Linked DNA regions of Homo sapiens: region 2 is linked to region 1. The links come from fine-mapping of genetic effects on gene expression. Tissue or cell type: blood mononuclear cells. Region 1 holds a variant in brackets; the other region holds the start of a gene. All regions are shown on one strand. Distances are from middle to middle.

Region 1 (2,686 bases):
TTAAGTCTCAGCAGAGACCTCAAAGGCTCTAAGCGTGTGCTTTTTGAATTTTAATGGTGTAAGAATTGCTTGGATAGGTGTTTATAAAAGATTCAGATTCTCAGATTTCCCTCAGAGATCATTTTATTATATCTAGAGTGGGGCCCAGAAGCCCGCATCTGAAAAAATATACCAGATGATTCTGCAGCAATGGTCTATGTCGCTGTGTCACCCAGGCTGGAGTGTAGTGGCATGCCCACAGCTCACTGCAGCCTTGACCTCCTGGGCTCAAGCAATCCTTCCACCTCAGCCTCCCAAGTAGCTGGGACTACAGGCATGCAGCACCATGCCCGGCTGATTTTTGTCTTTTTTATAGAGATGGGTTTTCACCATGTTGCCCAGGCTGGTCTCAATCTCCTGGGCTCAAGCGATTTGCCTGCCTCGGCCTCCCAAAGTGCTGGGATTACAGGTGTAAGTCACTGTGCCCAGCCTGTGATTGACTCTTAAAGAAAATTTTTAAAAAGTACAACTATTACATATCAACTAAAAATGAAAAGAAAAATACATTTTAAAAAGAAATATAACTTAGCCCTTTTTAATCCACTTGAAATACCTACCTAACCTTCAGATCGTCCTCATCTGTTGAAGTACTTGTACTCATCTTTTTAAGATTAATTCATCCCCAGGTTTGGATAAATATATATCTTTCCTGTCTCCATAGTAACGTAGTTATAAATGACCACTTCAGTGTCACCTAGCTGGGAGAGCAAAGGAAATGCATTGTGACAAAACCCCCTACCACAGCCATACATATCTTGAAACAACTCAAGTTAGAATGGACTATCATTGACCTTGATATCTGCTTATTTTGCAATGATAGGGAAAATGGTATGTGCTTTTTTTTCTCCCCTCTTCACCCATTTTGTATATCCTAGCTTCTCAAAGTGTGGTCTGTGGACCAGTAGCATCAGTATCACCTGAAAGTTTATTTGAAATACAGAATCTAAGGCCCTGCCCTGACCTACTGAATTACAATCTGCCCTGTGAACAAGATCCCTTGTGATCCCTGAGTATATGAAAGATGGAGGTGGTGAACAACAGCC[T/A]TTTTTAGAAAGCAATAAATGAAAGAGTATAGGTTTCCTCACAGCAAAGTTAAGCATGCTGTATGTAACATCAAAATGAACAAGTAAGTTCTATGGACTAAGGTAGACACTTTTCTTTTCCTTCTAAGATCATGTATTTGACACTACTACAAATGATCATTCTGGGCTCTATCCCCAACTTTTGCCCCTGAACCTGGGATAGCCCTGTAACTTGGGCTATCTCAAGATTCTTATTGCCGTGACAGTATTTCACCATGGTTCACTGCTCTTCCTCTCCCAATTCCCCTCCCACCTCCCTCCCTCCAGACACCAAGTCTCACTTCAACAGACTTGATGAGTCTTTCCTATAAGCAAGGCCCTGGGAGAGGGGCTGGAAAGAGGCAGATGCAAAAGAGAACCAAGAAGGACTCTGCCTGCTAAAAGATTGTGACAATAAGAACAAAGATGCGGGCCAGAGATGGTGGCTCACACCTATAATCCCAGCACTTTGGGAGGCCAACTTGGGAGGATCACTTGAGGTCAGGAGTTTGAGACCAGCCTGGGAAACATAGCAAGACCTCATCTCTATAAAAACGTTTTTAAAAAAATAATGATCCAGGCATGAAGGCACACACCAGTAGTCCCAGCTACTTGGGAGGTTGAACCTTGAGCCCAGGAGTTCGAGGCTACATTGAGCCATGATCATGCCACTGCTCTCCAGCCTGGGTTAAGAGTGAGGTCCTGTCTCTAAAAAAATTGAGCCAAGATGGGGCTTGAGAAGTACCAGGGCCCATTGTTAGCACCTTACAAGTATTAACACAGTCCATCTTTACAATAACTCTGTGGCATATGTTATGTACAGTCATTTGCTGAACACCACACAACTGGAAAGGCCACCCAACTAGGAAGGGGCAGAGGGTTGGCTGCAAAGGTTGTGCTCTGGATCACCATATAGGAAAATGGGAGCAAACTAGATGGTGACTGCTAGGGGAAGAGGAGCACATGAAGCTCCCACAAAACCCCCATCTCACAGTGTGTTAATCTTCATGTCAAGTGTGAAGCAAACACAGTTTCCTGCTTCCAAGTTCCACCCCTGCCTTGACTCCTGCACTCATTTCTCTTCAAAGGAACTACTGCCATTTCCACTGAGATTGGGTGTATATAGAAACCACAGCACTGCAAGGCAGATAAGTGCTGTGGAAAGTAACAGCAGAGTGCCATGGAAGCCTGGAGAGCCAAGAGGGTAGTGCCCATCAGGGAACTGGGCCAAAATGAATCTACTTTGCAAATTAATTTCTAGGCTTCCTGAAGGAAGTGGCATTCGTCAAGCCATGCGGGTCATGCAGCTGGCTAAGGGGCAGAAGGCCCTCCAGGCAGTGGGCACAGTGCCAGTCAAGGTATAGGACTGGATAATGCTAAGTCATACCTAAAGTTGTGTTCAGCTGCTTGGAGGGGCAAGTGAGAGAGAGCATAGGAAGAGCAGTCACCCTCTCAGAGGTGACTTGTTTTGCTGTGTTATACAATAAAGACAGCAAAAGTCTTAAGTTCATTTCTAATTCACATGCTTGTTCATCAAGGCATGGTAACTCAACTTACAGTTTAGCCAGGAAGAGGCATATTTACCA
Region 2 (2,686 bases), 88 kb after region 1:
AGGATCCATAGTCCAGATATCACCGGATTTCTCTGTAGTCCCTACCAACTCTCCCCAGTCCTCCAAAATTCCTGGAAATTCATAGCGTAAGGGGAGTCAGCAAGCTTTGTGGCAAAGGAAACATCCAGATGGGGACTGGAGATATCAGCCTCCTCTTGAAGACACCCCAAAACTTTACTAGTATCATGTAATAGGTACTAATGTCCTGAACAGAACATGAAAGACACTAACCATTAATGAAACAAATGGACAATTTGGATAAATTCATAATTTATTTACTTATTTTTCTTTCTTTTTGAGACAGGGTCTTATTCTGTCTCCCAGCTGGGCTGGAGTGCAGTGGGGTGATCACTGCAGCCTCAACTTTCAGGGCTCAGGTGATTTTCCCTCCAAGACTCCTAGGCTCAAGTGATTTTCCCTCCCAGTCTCCTGAGTAGCTGGGTCTACAGGTGTGCACCATACCCCGCTAATTTTTGTATTTTATTTATTTATTTATTTTTTGAGACAGAGTCTTGCTCTGTTGCCCAGGCTAGAATGCAGTGGCGCGATCTCGGCTCACTGCAAGCTCCGCCTCCCGGGTTCACGCCATTCTCTTGCCTCAGCCTCCAGAGTAGCTGGGTCTACAGGCGCCCGCCACGATGCCCGGCTAATTTTTTTAATTGTTGGTAGAGACGGGGTTTCACCGTGTTAGCCGGGATGGTCTCAATCTCTTGACCTCGTGATCCGCCTGCCTGCGCCTCCCAAAGTGCTGGGATTACAGGCGTGAGCCACTGCGCCCGGCCTAATCTTTGTATTTTTTTAGAGACAAAGTTTCACCATGCCGCCCAGGCTGGTCTCTAACTGTATTTTAAAAATACAGGCGGCCGGGCGCAGTGGCTCACGCTTGTAATCCCGGAACTTTAGGAGGCTGAGGCGGGCCGATCATGAGGTCAGCAGATCGAGACCATCTGGCTAACACGGTGAAACCCTGTCTCTACTAAAAATACAAAAAAAATTAGCCAGGCGTGGTGGCGGGCGCCTGTAGTCCCAGCCACTTGGGAGGCTGAGGCAGGAGAATGGCGTGAACGTGGGAGGCAGAGCTTGCAGTGAACCGAGATCGCGCCACTGTACTCCAGCCTGGCCGACAGAGCGAGACTCCGTCTTAAAATAAAAAATAAAAAAATAAGAAATACAGGCAGGGCGCGTGGGCTCATGCTTGTAATCCCAGCACTTTGGGAGGCTGAGGCGGACAGGCTGCTTGAGCTCAAGAGTTCCAGACTAGCATCGGCAAAGCAGGGAGACCCCATCTTTACAAAAAAAGTAGCCTGGCATGGTGTTGTGAGCCCATAGTCCCAGCTAAGTAGGGCAGAGGTAGGAGAATCACTTGAGCCCAGGAGTTCCAGGCTGCAGTGAGCCGTGGTCGTGCCACTGGACTCCAGCCTGGGTGAAAGAGCAAGACCCTGTCTCAAAAAGAGAAAGGAAAAAATTTAACATCAAGAACTTCCTTTCATCAAGACACCACTGAGAGAATACGACAACCCACAGAGTAGGAAAAGAGATTTGTAATACACATCTGTAACAATGGACTTCCTCCTAGAATAGAGAGGATAAAAAGTAGCAACACTTCCGCTTGCACCCGGACGGAACTTCCTGTCACGGAAAAGAACATCCTGTCACGGAGAAGAACATCCTGCAGAATTTCCTGTCACGAGGAACATTCCGCAGGAGGAAATGGAGGCTGAAAGGCTGCGACTCCTCGAGGAAGAGGCCAAGCTGAAAAAGGTAGCCAGAATGGGATTTAATGCATCTTCCATGCTCCGAAAAAGCCAGCTAGGTTTCCTCAACGTCACCAGTTACTCCCGTTTAGCCAACGAGCTGCGTGTGAGCTGCATGGAGCGGAAAAAGGTCCAAATTCGGAGCTTGGATCCCTCCTCTTTGGCGAGCGACCGATTTAACTTCATTCTGGCGAGTACCAACAGCGACCAGCTCTTCGTAGTGAACCAGGTCGAAGTCGAAGGCTCCAAGTACGGCATCATCAGCCTGCGAACTCTGAAGATCCCTTCGTTCCACGTGTACGTGCTCAGAAACCTCTACGTCCCCAACCGGAAGGTGAAGTCCCTGTGCTGGGCCTCGCTGAACCAGTTGGACTCTCACGTTCTGCTGTGCTTCGAGGGAATCACAGATGCTCCAAGCTGTGCAGTGCTGCTCCCAGCGTCGCGGTTCTTAAGTGTTCACACAAGAGTTAACCAGCCTGGCATGCTCTGCAGTTTCCAGATCCCAGAGGCCTGGTCCTGTGCGTGGTCCCTCAACACCCGGGCATATCACTGCTTTAGTGCAGGCTTGTCTCAGCAGGTCCTGTTGACCAGCGTGGCGACGGGACACCAGCAGTCATTTGATACCAGCAGTGATGTCTTGGCCCAGCAGTTTGCTAGTACGGCTCCTTTGCTGTTTAATGGCTGTCGCTCCGGGGAGATCTTTGCCATTGATCTGCGTTGTAGAAATCGAGGCAAGGGGTGGAGGGCCACTCGCCTGTTCCATGACTCAGCAGTGACCTCTGTGCAAATCCTCCAAGAAGAGCAATGCCTGATGGCATCAGACATGACTGGAAAGATCAAGCTGTGGGATCTGAGGGCCACTAAATGTGTAAGGCAGTACGAAGGTCACGTGAATGAGTCCGCCTATCTGCCCCTGCATGTGCACGAGGAAG

Evidence for each region. PIP is the estimated chance that this variant, and not a neighbour inherited with it, causes the effect.
Region 2: DCAF4L1 starts here. The variant in region 1 is fine-mapped to the expression of DCAF4L1 in blood mononuclear cells (TOPMed, PIP 0.98).

The regions. Positions count from the first base shown.
Region 1 is chr4:41,891,847-41,894,532 of GRCh38, forward strand. No RefSeq gene overlaps it. Among named protein-coding and RNA genes, the nearest start is that of LINC00682, 11 kb to the left of the region's middle. The variant T/A (reference allele first, on the strand shown) is at 1,083.
Region 2 is chr4:41,980,083-41,982,768 of GRCh38, forward strand. DCAF4L1 (DDB1 and CUL4 associated factor 4 like 1) reads left to right here and starts at 1,674. Exons shown (of 1, transcript NM_001029955.4): 1 at 1,674-2,686. The coding sequence starts at 1,711. RefSeq lists enhancers at 1,405-2,604, 2,164-2,686.